Homo sapiens: one gene and its partners. The protein of the gene in region 2 purifies or fractionates together with the protein of the main gene of each other region. This does not show direct contact. Each region holds a gene or a part of one and is shown on either strand. Other genes may lie near its edges.

Region 1 (3,586 bases), on a different chromosome or scaffold from region 2:
GTTGGTGCGGAAGTAATTGCAGTTTTTGTCCTTTTTTAATAGAATTGCTCTCTGTAAGGTATCAAAGATGACTGACGCAAAGCAAACACCTCAGCCCCCAGCAGACCTCCTAGGCTGATCCCCACCAGAACTCAGGCATGGAGGGTAGGGGGTGTGGGATGTGGGAATGCAGGGCTTCTTCCTGGTACCCTGCCTCTCTGTCCCTGGGGGCTAAGTCAGAGCTGGACCTTTACCAACACCATGCCAGCACCCTGGCTGTGTGCCCATCTCTACCTGTGCCCCCCACATTGCTAGCTCAGCCATCTGCCAGCAGCTCTTGGGGAGCAGGACATGCTAACCTCTTCCTATGTCCCCTAACTATGCTATGGACCATTTGGGGGTTGAGCCCACCCCCTCTGGCTTTTTAAGAGACAGCAGCAGGCCTGAGGACACAATCCATCCTGCCTCAGGCCTTTGAAGCTAGGCCAGGCGCCCTCCCATACATCCGGCATCCTTTAACGTGACACAGGATTGATGATGTGTGGGGGCTAGTCGGTTGCAAAAGGCCACGCTGAGCGGGAGGGGGAGTTCAGGCTACGAAGGAAATGGATTCCCTTGCAGGGGAGTCTCGTTTAATGCTGCCATGCATGGGCCCAGGCTCCGCTGGGGCCTGGCGGAGCCATGCTTTGTCTGCTGCTGTGTCGCTCCTCCTGCTGCCCCTTCAGGAGAGGTAGGAAGGGGCTGGTTTAGGAAAGAGACTTGGTTCTTGCTAGAGCTGGGGTGTTCCCAAAGAGCTGGCTGGAGGCCACCCGGCCCACCCCCTGCCAGCTGGCCGCTCCGTGTGGCGCAGGCATCAGGCCCAAGGCCAGCTAAAGCCCAGCTTCCCTCTCCAAGGCATGGGAGAAAGAACAGCTTTAGGGCAGTAGCTCTGGAGAACCTTTCCAGCTTTTCCTCTGCATCCCCAAATCTCAATGAGCACCCTTCTGGGGAGCCTGCTCCCATACCCCATCTCTTCATGTACCCCTCTGAAGCCTGGGAGAGGCCAGCAAAGGGGCCATCCCTGGTCCCCTCCCTTTACCTTACTCTTCTGTCACCTAGAACCACCGACCATAGAAAAAGCAGTCCCCTCACACCTGTAATCCCAGCAATTTGGGAGGCCGAGGCGGGCGGATCACTTGAGGTCAGGAGTTCAAGACCAGCCTGGCCAACATGAGGAAACCACGTCTCTACTAAAAATACAAAAATTAGCCATGCATTGTGGCGGGTGCCTGTAATCCAAGCTACTCCAGAGGCTGAGGCAGGAGAATTGCTTAAACCCAGGAGGCGGAAGTTGCAGTGAGCCGAGATCGCGCCACTGCACTCCAGCTTGGGCAACAGAGCAAGACTTCGCCTCAAAAAAAAAAAAAAAAAAAGCAGTCCCTATAACTAGCCTCCTTCACAGTCATCATCCTGGCCAGGGCAGTGACAATTCCAGGAGACACATGGAAGGCCCTCCCATCCCTGCCCAGCACACACTTGGAGTGCAGGCCAGCAACTCCCGCAGCTTCTGTCAACACAGGGCTGGCAGCAGAAGACCAAGGTCCAGCGGAGCTCAGTTGAACTGCATAAATCAGCAATCATTTTTTCACTTCTTTTATCTAAGAGTTTTTAGCTAAGGTTATTGAGTTTTTAAATAAAAAAGCTTTTTCTTTGATGGTCTCTAGAGACAGCTGGGTTGAGCCCCAACCTAGAATGGAGGCAGGGGAGGATTCCTGGCCTTTGTCATGGCTGAGCTTTCAGAATGAAGGATGGGCCTTTCTGGACAGGATCCAAGTTTTATTCTGGACAGAGTAAAACCCAATCCTAGCCGGCATGAGCCACTTTTCTGGGAACTATCAGGGCCCTGGCCATCCCCAAAGGAGGCCAAAGGTCCATGGGCGGCAGCCATCTTTCCCCACCCCCCTCCTATTTACAGGAACCTTCCTAGGCTAGGGCTGCGCCCACGGGCCCTTACCCCTTGATTCCCATCACAGGTTGGGTGAGGGGCAGGGGTCTTATACCAGTTATAGTACCCTGGGGAGTTCCCTGAAGGTTGGGGTAGCTGAGTGAGCCAAATGGGGAAGAGCAATGGGTTCCTCCAGAGCCTTACATCAGCTCTTCTCGCCCCATGGCTGAGGCCAGAGAGGAATGATCTGCTCTTCAGGCAGCCTCTTCGCCACCTTTTCCTCAGCAAACACACACCAACATTGACATTTACAAAGATCAAGGGAGCTTGTGGCCCTGGGCTGCCTGAACCTGGCCACACAGGCTTGCGGCAGCAAGAGCCCAGCCCATCTGTTTACAGGACGCTCAGCAGTTACTCCCAGGAAAATCCCTGCACTTCAGGAAAGGGAAACTGGTGAAAGGATTTGCTTGCCCAACCGTGGCCTGGCCTGAGGAGGTAGTGCTCCACTCTCCCACGTCCAGCTTGGGCCCCCAGCCCTCACAGGCACCTCTTTGTTCTCCCTCCACAGGTACCTGACGCGCTGGGCTCCTGGCTCCGTCAAGCCCATCTACAAAAAAGGCCCCCGCTGGAACAGGGTGCGCATGCCCGTGGGGTCACCCCTTCTGAGGGACAATGTCTGCTACTCAAGAACACCTTGGAAGCTGTATCACTGACAGAGAGCAGTGCTTCCAGAGTTCCTCCTGCACCTGTGCTGGGGAGTAGGAGGCCCACTCACAAGCCCTTGGCCACAACTATACTCCTGTCCCACCCCACCACGATGGCCTGGTCCCTCCAACATGCATGGACAGGGGACAGTGGGACTAACTTCAGTACCCTTGGCCTGCACAGTAGCAATGCTGGGAGCTAGAGGCAGGCAGGGCAGTTGGGTCCCTTGCCAGCTGCTATGGGGCTTAGGCCATGCTCAGTGCTGGGGACAGGAGTTTTGCCCAACGCAGTGTCATAAACTGGGTTCATGGGCTTACCCATTGGGTGTGCGCTCACTGCTTGGGAAGTGCAGGGGGTCCTGGGCACATTGCCAGCTGGGTGCTGAGCATTGAGTCACTGATCTCTTGTGATGGGGCCAATGAGTCAATTGAATTCATGGGCCAAACAGGTCCCATCCTCTTCATGACAGCTGTGAGCTCCTTACTGTGGGAGAGCTGCAGGGAGCCAAGGTGGGCTGCCTGACACACTTGCCGCTCTCGTGTGAATCCAAGAAACTGCGTTCCTCAAAGGGGCCCTGGTTGTCACCTTCTCCCACAGCCATTTCCACCCATCGTTGTCTAGAATCTCTTTCATTAGCACATTCCAACCCCTCTGCCACTTGGTTTAGAAATGAGCTCCCTGGCTCAGTGGGCCTTTCAGAATCTGGAACCAGACGGAGGTGGAGTTAAGAAGATAGGACAGAACAGGCAGGCCAAGTTCACTGAAGCTTAAGAAAATCATGTTTAGACTCTGTTTAAAAACATCCAGGCTGGCTCCCATTCTATAGCATGAAGGGCAAGTCCATGTTCTTCTCGCCAGTGCCCACGTAGACGTAGCCATAGTTCTTGGTGCGGGGAGCATGGTAGAAGGTGAGGCCCGGCCAGAGCAGGCTGCGCAGCACCACCAGGGCATTGCCCCTCTCCATCTGGATGCTCCAGG
Region 2 (3,586 bases):
ACTCAAACAAAAACATCTAATTCATGGATGAATAAGTGGAGAAATGGCACTGGCCTTACCCAGTGAAGTGAGGTTGCTGTAGTTCTCCAGCATTACATCTTTGTACAGTTTTCTCTGAGAAGAATCCAGCAAGGGCCACTCCTTCTCGGTAAAGTCCACAGCGACATCTTGGAAAGTCACCGATTCCTGGAACGCCACACAAACTTGGGGTCAGCGAGGAACCAGCCTAACGATGTTCATGGTAAGATGGCTGAGGTTGAAGACCGGGCATGAGAGACCCAACACAGGATTTCCAGATGGCCTGCTACGGGGCTCAACATTTCCTCCAGGCATCAGTCCTCAGACATCCTCTCTCCCCATTGAGGCCATCTTGTCCTGTGCCGTCACTTCAGATGCAACCCTGACAAGGGACTAATCTCCCTCCAGTTCTAGCCCACTCCGAGAGCTTTGCCCTTTATTTCCCCCCGTCTCTGGGGCTGAGCAAGGGCCTGAGATTTTGCAAGCATGAGGGAAACAGATGCTACATAAATCACTTCCCCTAACTTCCCCAACACCAGGACAGCCCCAATATTCCTTGGCTCTCTCTTGGGCCCTGTTCTGGCATCCACTGGCTGAGATGAAGCTCTGCAAGAATTCCAGCATGCACTGGTGGGGTCTTCCAGGAAGTGCCTCTCCTGCTCTAGGGACCCAGAGATCTTAGTGCACCTGGGAACCAACACTGGGTGTGTGAGGCTCCAGACCACTGCACACGAACAGGTCCAAATTCTGGGGACAGGAATGGTCTTTTGAAGAAACAGGAAATTCTGAGTCCTGGAGACAGGTGGAATCCTGGGTGGACGTGGCTGGAGGAGAAAACAGGGTTCATGAGAATCAGAGCCTGCCCTGTCTCATAATACAACACTTGTAAACCAGGAAACTGCTCCACACTGATTCTGAGTGTTCACATCCTCAATCCTCTCTCTCTCTTCCTCCCCCCACCTCTCTTGCACACATCAGTTTCATAACAAGTCAGAGCAGCCCTGTTCCACCAAAAACATAAAGAGGGTGGTGGGCTACATACTCATAAGAAGTGACATAGTTCCAACCTAGGAGTGAAGAAATGCAAGTTCTGAGAGCTAGAGTTGTGACCTTGCTGAAAGTGATCAAAATAATAAATGAGATAACTCAGGGTTACCCATTACCTGCACCCTCTTCATGCATGAATGATAAGGACACTGGCCTGCTCCCAGACCCACCAAGACCCTCAGCAGACACAGTCACTGGGGTGGCTGCTGGGGCTCTGTTCCCACCCCTTTTCCACTTGCCCATCCTCTCCCAGCAGCCCTCTATGGTGTACGTATCTTTCACCCCATCAAGTGGCAGGGGCCACTTGCACTCACTTTCTCAGGGCACGCACTGACCCAAGAACTTACCAAATGTGGGGGACAGAGCTGCCATCCTCAGAGAATGGCAGTCAGTTTGCCTGAGCAGGGCACCAGGACAACCAGAAAGCTACTCTCTTGCTCTCACGTGACTCTCCAAGCTGGCATCTGTAGCAAATGAAAGAACATCGGGAGTAGTGAAAGGCTATCTGTCTCTCCTGCTCACCAAAGAAAACTCTGAGTTTTGTTTTTTGGCATTTCCTCTTTTGAGCAGCAAGATCTGCCTGATCCTGGACTTTTATCTTACTTAGGTAAACTCTCTCAGCAATGTGGTGATGTGGTGGGGGGACAGCCCCTGATCTGCTATAAGTGGGTTCAGAATTACTCTTCCTAAGTGATTTTCCACCAAGTACAACTCTGTTAAACCCCCTCACTCATTAAACACTCTGGTCCTAGACTTCTGCTCTTCCTTCACCTTCGAGGCCTGCGATCATTTAGGATGGCTCTATCCATGAAGATGGTCCACCCAGGATCAACCATGAGTTCCAAACTCCAATGCCCTTTGCACCCACACTCCACACCAACATATACACCCTTGGGCCATGGCCTGGACTGCATCATCACTAGAATCAGCCTCACCTCACAGGCAATGATTTGGAAATCTGCTCTCTGGGCAAAGTCTCCTGTGCAACCTTCTCACATCAACTCTCACTTTAGAGATTCGCGGCCACCTATGCTTCTGCCACCTCCTCCACTCACTGAATTTGAATTTAAACATCTTTTGAGATGAATCAGAAACTTAAAAATTCATAGAGAACAGCTGCAGTGAGCTACCATCATGCACTCCAGCCTGGGCAATAGAGTAAGATTCTGTCTCTAAAAACAAAAAAAGAAAAAGAAAAAAGGAAAATGAACAGTGAACCACGGATTGGGAAAAAAATATCTGCAATGCATACACCTGAAAAAGAATTCGTATTCAGATTAAAGAACTCCTAGATAGGAGTGCAAAAGGCTTATTGGAAAAAATAAAAAGAACTCCTTCAAAACAGAAAGAAAGAAAGAAAATCAACCCAACAAAAAGGGTAAAAGACTTTAATTAATAAACAGACATTTCACAAAACCAGTAAGAATCACATCGAATGGTGTTGAATATCATAGTCATTAGAGAAATGCAAATTAAAACTAGAACAGCCAAAATAAAAAAGACTACCAATACTAAATGCTGCTGAGTTTGGGGCACACTGGCACCTCTCATATCCTGATGGTAGGAGTGTGAAATAGTTCAACTACTTTGGAAAACACTTTGGCAGTTTTTAACAAGCACACTGACTATCTGATCCAACAATTCTGCTCCTAGATATTTATATAAGAGAAACTGTAAACAATTTATATCCACAAAGACTCGTACAAAAATGTCTGTAGTAGTCTGATTCCTAATAGCCAAATACTGTAAACAATCTAAACATCTATCAACCAGAGAATGGATATACAAATTGCAATGTTTACAGAATGGAATACTACTCAGCAATAAAAAGAAACTATGCAGACACACTACATGGAGAAATCCCTACGATGCTGGCCAAAAGAAACTGGACACACAAGAAACGCTCTGATTCCAACAATATAATGTCCATGAATAGGCAAAACGTAATTAAGTTGATAGAATTGAAAAAAAAAAGGGGGTTTCTTCAATGGAGGATAAGACAGGGATAGACTGAAAGAAGCAAAGGGAACTTTCTAGGATGATAGAAACTTACCTATTTTCAGATGTACAGTGTACACAATTGTCAAAAATTCAAACTGATCACCTAAGTAAGACCTATGCATTTTCTTGAACATATATTAAACCCTGCTTAAAAGAAAGAAAAAAAATGAGGCTTTCTTACCTTCTTGCTTCTAGTTATTTAAACAGTCTTCTCACAACTGATCTATGACCTCCTCCTTTCCTTCTATGACAAAGAGATGTCTGCCCTCCCTTCTCAAGGCAATCCTTTCAAATCTGCTCCAGGCCCATCCCCGTCTCTGGACCCTCGCACTACCTGGCTCTCCTTTACTTTCAGCCTCATTTCTCGCCCTGCTAGACAATTTCCTATGCATGGACACATGCTCAGGTCTATCCCATCTTGAAACCAATGCCTGCCCTGGCTCCCCTTAGTGCCCCCTTCCGAGCAAAAACTTAGGAGCAGTCTACATTCACCATCTCCCAATTCAGTACACCCAGCATC
Region 3 (3,586 bases), on a different chromosome or scaffold from region 2:
CAGGCTGGTCTTGAACTCCTGACCTCCAGTGACCCACCTGCCTCAGCCTCCCAAAGTGCTGGGATTACAGGCATGAGACACTGCACTCAGCCAGAGGACTGAGAGCTTTTAGAGAGACTGGTAATCACTGTCCTCATCATGCCAAATTTGATAATTTCCAAGGTGTTTCCCTAGCTAGCAGCTCTGCAGCCCTCTGGGGAGGGCAAGAGAGTTTTAGAGAGGGGCTCAAAGGTGGGGGCCCTGCCCGGGTACTTCAGGGCATCAGATAGATCCAGGATGAGGACCCAGTCTCCAGTCCTCCCTCCTCCAAAGATGGGGGTTCGTTCCACTTGTATGAGAAAGAGCTTTCTACAAGGCATCCCCGGGAGCCTCAGGTAGACTGGGAGGCTGGAGCTGGCAAGGTGGGGAGCAGGGTCCCCAGAGCCCCCTCACCTGGATGGGCTTCTCCATGTCCCCATCACACAGGGACACCAAGGGCACTGTGAATGGCTTCCACACAGGGTCCAGTGTGTACTTGATCACCTGTGGGACAGAGAGGGATGCTGTGAGCTCAGGCCCTGGGCAGCAGTGCTCTGGGGTTGGGTCAGCCCAATGGGGACAGGGTGACAAAATGCAGACCCACAGCCACACTTCCAGAGACAGAAGTGAGCGTCCCTGTGGCTGGGAGGAAGCATATCCCTCAGGTGCCACTGTGGGTTTTCCTGCACACTGAGCGGCTGTGACCGCACCTCCCTTTTTCAGAGCTGTGGAGGGGCTGGACTGCAGGCCCACTGCTTAGAGATCCCTGGGCCCCCACGTACCCACCTCAGTCCTGTGGACCAGCATCCACTTGCCATCGTCTCCTGGCTTATAAAACTCCAGAAAGGGGTCTGACTTCCCAAAGAGGTCCTGGGAGAAGTGGGAGGATGCGGGTGAGAGAGGTACAGCCCTGCTAGGTTCAGGCAGATGGGGGTGTGGCCCTGCTGCCTCCCCAGCCGGGTGTCAGGATAGGAGCTGTGGGCAGAGCCAGCCTGGCCCCCTCCCCTCAGACTCTGCAAGGCTCAGCAAGAGGCCCAGGGCAGCTGCAGCCCCCTGGGATCAACCAGGTCCCCCAGCAGAAACCCCCCACCCTGAGGCTGTCAGAGCTTGTGCTCAGAGACCCTCCAAGACTCAGAGCCTGTGTGAGTCAGAACTCCGGCATTTTAGATGGGCCAGGACTTCAAGAGGGTGACTATTCCCAAGGTAGGGTGAGGCTCCCAGCAGGGTGTCATTTCAGTTTATTTTATTGGGAATGTGAAAAACTGAAACTATCCTGCACATGACATAAGGAATATCATGGCCTTTAAAAAATCATTTAAGGTTTAAAAAGTGCCACTTTTTGTATGTGACTCACTCTATCTATCTATCTATCTATCCATCCATCCATCCATCCATCCATCCATCCATCCATCCATCTATGGGGTCTCACTATATTGCCCAGGCTGGTCTCAAAATCCTGGCCTCAAGTGATCCTCCTGCTTCAGCTTCCCAAGTAGCTGGGATTACAGGTGTGAGCCGCTGCACCTGGCAACTGTTACTTTAAAGAGGTTATATTCAAGTTAGGGAGACAGAAAATAAGTAAAGAAGGTATGGGCCAGGCATGGTGGCTCAAGCCTGTAATCCCAGCACTTTGGGAGGCCGAGGTAGGCGGATCACAAGGTCAGGAGATCGAGACCATCCTGGCTATCATAGTGAAACCCCGTCTCTACTAAAAGTACAAAAAAAAAAAAAATTAGCTGGGCGTGGTGGCAGGCGCCTGTAGTCCCAGCTACTCGGGAGGCTGAGGCAGGAGAATGGCATGAACTCAGGAGGCGGAGCTTGCAGTGAGCTGAGATGACACCACTGTACTCCAGCCTGGGCAACAGAGCAGGACTCTGTCTCAAAAAAAAAAAAAAAAGAAAGAAAGTATGCTAGACAGTAATAGTGTTAAGGAGACGAGAAGGAGGGGGTGGGAAATTGAAGACCAATTTCAGGGAAGGCCTCGTTGAGGAGGTGATGTGGGAGCAAAGGCTTGATGGAGGTGAGAGGGTGCCGTGAGAAAATTCAAGGAAGAGAGCATCCCAGGCAGAGGGAACAGCAAGTGCAAAGCTCCTGAGGGAGGAGAGTGCCTCGTTTAATTCACGGACAAGGGGCTAGGTTTGGCTGAAGCAGAGTGAGGTGCGGGGAGGAGGGGTGAGGTCGGAGAGTCGGGGCACTGGGGACACATCAGGCAGGGCCCCATTGGGTAAGGACCTTGGAATGTACTTACACTAAGTGAGATGGGGATGCCCCAATGAGCAGGTTTCCAGGTGTGTTTTGAATACCCCTAAGGGATGGAACACTCACTACCTCAGAGGTGAAGGAGTCCTAATCTGGAGTGGCCAGGAGGGCCCCGTGCTGGACCAGTCCCTAGAATGTGATGGAGGTGGTGGCCCGAGGTCCCGGAATGAGGCCACACAGCCCTGGGGCTGGTGGGGGCTACTGTTCCCAATGGGAGCCCTTCCTCTGCCCGCCTTACCTTCTTGTCCAGCCTCCTGCCCGCCAGGCTTAGTGTGATGACGCGGTTGTCGGACAGCTCCTGGGCAGCGATCTGTAAGGCCGGGACATGAGGGGCTCCTCAGACTCCCCCAGCCTCCTGCCAGGCAGGATGGCACAGGGTGCCCCAGGAGCAATCCTCCAGGGCTAGGAGGGGGAAGGGAAGGGCAGTTCCAGGTGACCTTGGACAAATCTCTTGTCTTCCCCACACCTCAGTTTCCATCTTCTGGAAAATGCGGAAAATAACCCATCTGGAGATGAGGAGTCAGGAAGCGGATCTACGCAAATCCGCAGGGCCCATGGGGTGGTGGGCAGAGATGAAGCAAGGACCAGACACCGGGGGTGGTCTTGAGTCCCGGGGAGAGGTTCTGGCCCAGAGAGCAGCATGACCGGCCTTCTCCTGCCCCTGCGGCAGCCACAGAGAGCACAGCTTCCTCAGAACACCAAGGTGTCAGCATCACAGCCACTTCATTGTACAGCTAGGGAAACTGAGGCCCAGGGGAGAAACTGAGTCCCATCAGTTCACATTGGTCATCTGTCCTCCATGCATTCCCCATCAGCTATGGTTCCCTGACCCCAGCCCAGCCAGTGATGGCCTAGCTGGGCGACTTCGAGACTGCTGAGGCCCCCTGTAGGCCTCTCTCCCTCCCCTGCTGCCCACAGCAACACAAGTGGGCTGGGGCCTTTCGCTGGGGCCTCCTCTCCTCTCCTGCCTCTAGGATGGCCTCACCCAGCGCAAGGCATCTGGCCCTCTGGACCCACAGACAGAGGCCAGCCATGTTGCCCGTTCTCCCCTGCCGTCCTCCCACTGGGACTTGCTCAACAACCCTATAGGGTAGGTCCTATTATCACCCCCATTTCCCAGGGGACGGGATGGAGGCCTAGAGTGGAACTGCCAGAAATGCTGGGGTGATGGCATACCCGGGTGAGTGGGGTCTGTCTGAGATGGCTTCTAGGTGGAAGCTGCCTTGTGAAGGCATTCATTCATTCATTCATTCAGAGATGGGGTTTCACTCTCTTGCCCAGGCTGGAGGGCAGTAGCATGATCATAACC
Region 4 (3,586 bases), on a different chromosome or scaffold from region 2:
TTGTTTATCTCTTCATCTGTCAATGGACACTTGGATTTCTTCCACCTTTTGTCTATTATAAATAATGCTAATAGGAACATGGGTGTCTGAATATCTGTTCAAGTCCCTGCTTTCACTTCTTTTGGGAATATACCCAGAAGGGGAATTGCTGGCTCATGCAGTCATTGCATGTTAACTTTTTTTAAGAAATCACTATACCATTTTCCACAGTGACTGTACCGTTTTACATTCTCAACAGAAATGCACAAGGGTTCTAATTTCTCTACATCCTCACCAACATTTTTTATTTTCAGTGGTTTTTTTTTTTTATAGTGGCCATACGAATGGAAGTTAAGTAGTATCTCGTTGTGGTTTTGATTTTGATTTCCGTAATGACTAGTGATGTTGAGCATCTTTTCACGTGCTTATTGGCCACTTGTATATCTTCTTTGGGAGAATGTCTATTCAAGTCCATTGTTCATTTATTAATCTGGTTGTTTATTTCTGTTGCTTTGTAAATTTTTTTATATTTTCTAGATATCAATCCCTTATCATATACATGTTTAGAAACCATTTTCTTACATTCCGTGTGTTGCCTTTTTTAACTCTGTTGATAGTGTCCGTTAATACACAAAAGTTTTAAATTTTGCTGAAGTCCCACTAATCTATTTTTTCTTTTATTGTCTATAGTTTTGGTTTCTTATTCAAAAAATAATTTCCAAATCCAATATTATAAAACTTTTACCCTTTATTTTCTTCTACAACTTTTATAGTTTCAACTCTAATGTTTGGTTCTTTGATCCATTTTGAGTTCATATTTGTAAGTTATAAGGTAATAGCCCAACTTTTTAAGGAGATATATCATTTCCTCAACATCATTTGTTAAAGAGACTCTCCTTTCTTCATTAAATGATCTTGACACCCATACTGGAAATCATTTGACCATATATATCAGAGTTTATTCATGGGCTGTCTTTTCTATTCTATTGGTTTATATGTCAGTCTTTATACCAGTACCACACATGGTTTTGTAATACGTTTCACAACTCAGAAACTGTGAGACTCCAACTTTGCTCTTCCTTTTTATTTTTATAATTAGGGGATCTCTGGAAATTTCATATGAAATTTATGGTGGATTTTTCTATTTATACAAAGTAATTGGAATGTTGGTAGGGATTATATCAAACCTGTACATCACTTTGGGTAGTAGTGACATCTTAAGAATATTAAGTCTTCCAATCCATAAACACAGGATGTCTTTCTAATAACTTATGTCATCTATAATTTCTTTAAAGGGTGTTTGAAGTTTTCACTCTACAAGTCTTCCACCTGCTTGGTTAAGCTGATTCCTAAGTAGTTTATTCTTTTGATGCTGTTAAATTGGATTGTTTCCAAAATTTCCTTTTCTATTTTTTACACTAGCAACTGATTTCTCCATATTGACTTTGCATGCTGCAACTTTGATGAATTGTTTTAATAGTTCTAATAGTTTTTTGTGGGATAGTTAATGTTTTCTACAAATTAGATACTATCATCAGCAGACAGAGATAATTTTACTTTTTCATTACCAATTAGGATGCCTCCTTTATGCTTCTCTTGTCTAATTACTCTGGATAGGACTTGCAGTGTTCTGTGGAATGCAATTGACAAAAGTAGGCATCCTTTTCTTGTTCATGATGTTATAGGAAAAGCTATGACGTTTCATCATTAAATGTGAAGTTAGCTGTGGGTTTTTAATACATGGCATTTATTATGTTGAGGTGCTGTCTTTCTATTTCTACTTTGTTGATTATTTTTATCATGAAAGCCTCCTGAATGTTTCCATGCATTGGATATTCAAATTTCCTATTTCTTTGATTGTAAGTACGTAAGGTGAATACTGATTGTTGTTTCAGTTCTCTCTCTTAACCTTAAATATACTACTTTTTCCTTCAATTGCCAGAACTGCCTGTTACTAAATCCCCATCGCTGGTCTCCTCTCTCCCTTGCAGGCTTCTCTCTGGGCTCCACGGTGCAGTCTCACACTAAAGGAATCTGGATGTGGTGTGTGCCCCACCCCAAGAAGCCAGGCCACATCCTAGTTCTGCTGGACACCGAGGGTCTGGGAGATGTAGAGAAGGTGAGACTCAAGGATCCAGTTGTGGAGTAAGCCCCTCCTCTCTGAATATTTTATGCAGCGGTTAATTGTTTATTAACTATTAACTACAGGCTGTAATATGTGTGGGTTAACACAGATGCATAAAGGGAGCACAAATAATCCCAGTGTCATAAGTCTTATCCTGCACAGAACTTTAGTTAAGAATTTGGGTGCTAAAGCCATGTGACTTTGTATTTAAATTTAAATTCTGTCACTAATTCAGTAGCCTGAGAAAATTGACTTATTTTCGCCTCAGCATTCTAATCTTTAAAATGTATGGAAAAGACCTATGTTGGCCATATAGTATTATTTTGAATATTTAATAAGATAATACATTACAGGTGTATATTAATTATTCAATAAAATAGCAACTAATAGTACCAATCTTATATGTGAATTCTGTTATTGAAAAAAAGAAGAGAAAATTTTAAATTTACATTGTACTCAGGCCTTAAAATGCCCACCAACCTTGAATTTTAATTTTACAATTATCTGTTGATGATCATTAGAAGACCTAGTAAGAATCATGGTAACCCAAAAACACTCGTCGAAAAACTACCCAAAAGCCACATCCTACTGAGAATAATTTTTGTATTTGTCTTCCTTTAATAGGTCATTAGTGTTAAAAAAAAAAAAAAAAAAGAAAAGAAAAAAAAACCCTCTAACATATGAACATAGTTTTACTACTGTTACTCTGAAAAGTGCTGCGATGATGAAACTTGCTCCTGACTCCAGTGTGTCTTGACTTCCAGGGTGACAACCAGAATGACTCCTGGATCTTCGCCCTGGCCGTCCTCCTGAGCAGCACCTTCGTGTACAATAGCATAGGAACCATCAACCAGCAGGCTATGGACCAACTGTAGTATCCTTTTGTGACCCAGAACAGCACCAAGGTCAGAGGGGACACCTGTATTCATACACCAGCTGCCTGACTGTGAATCCTGATGAATCAAGCTCAAAAGGAGAAAACAAAAAATAATGCAAGTACAGAGGAGAGATCCCATGTATCCACTTTAGAACTGACACTGACACTTAGGTTAGGAGCAAAGGAAAATGGAAGGTTTGGGTATGTGTTGAACTAACATGGGATGAGGTCCCTGTTCATTTTGTCACATTTCCTTAGTTAGCTACTCAGCTATGTGACAGAGCTGACACATAGAATCCGATCAAAATCCTCACCTGATGAGAATGAGAATGAGGTTGAGGATTCAGCTGACTTTGTGAGCTTCTTCCCAGACTTTGTGTGGACACTGAGAGATTTCTCCCTGGACTTGGAAGCAGATGGACAACCCCTCACACCAGATGAGTACCTGACATACTCCCTGAAGCTGAAGAAAGGTAACAGAGAGCTTCAACTGATAAATGAGGATGAGAAAACACAAGAAATTATCATTTTTCAGTTTACTATTGCTAGTTTTCCAGCATTTGCAGTTTTCTATGTCTTCAGCTGGCTATTCCTAGAAATTAATA

Evidence for each region.
Region 1: the proteins of ZNF317 (region 2) and MRPS18A purify together in Homo sapiens (affinity purification with mass spectrometry; 2 studies listed by BioGRID and IntAct, with this or other methods). This does not show direct contact.
Region 3: the proteins of ZNF317 (region 2) and CPNE2 purify together in Homo sapiens (affinity purification with mass spectrometry; one large-scale study listed by BioGRID and IntAct). This does not show direct contact.
Region 4: the proteins of ZNF317 (region 2) and GBP1 purify together in Homo sapiens (affinity purification with mass spectrometry; one large-scale study listed by BioGRID and IntAct). This does not show direct contact.

Annotation. Positions count from the first base shown.
Region 1 is NC_000006.12:43,670,792-43,674,377, reverse strand, and holds the end of MRPS18A (large ribosomal subunit protein mL66 isoform 1 precursor), read left to right. Parts: intron 1-1,777; exon of another isoform or gene 1,778-2,471; coding exon 2,472-2,616; 3' UTR 2,617-3,176; downstream 3,177-3,586. Other genes in the region: RSPH9 (radial spoke head protein 9 homolog), read right to left, coding at 3,391-3,586.
Region 2 is NC_000019.10:9,153,868-9,157,453, reverse strand, and holds part of ZNF317 (zinc finger protein 317), read right to left. Parts: intron 1,530-3,586; 5' UTR 1,438-1,529; coding exon 1,413-1,437; intron 843-1,412; coding exon 706-842; exon of another isoform or gene 187-705; coding exon 60-186; intron 1-59. UniProt on the Homo sapiens protein: May function as a transcription factor. May play an important role in erythroid maturation and lymphoid proliferation.
Region 3 is NC_000016.10:57,116,497-57,120,082, reverse strand, and holds part of CPNE2 (copine-2), read right to left. Parts: intron 2,588-3,586; coding exon 2,516-2,587; intron 889-2,515; coding exon 805-888; intron 523-804; coding exon 433-522; intron 1-432.
Region 4 is NC_000001.11:89,058,709-89,062,294, reverse strand, and holds part of GBP1 (guanylate-binding protein 1), read left to right. Parts: intron 1-1,970; coding exon 1,971-2,098; intron 2,099-2,868; coding exon 2,869-2,978; intron 2,979-3,251; coding exon 3,252-3,454; intron 3,455-3,586.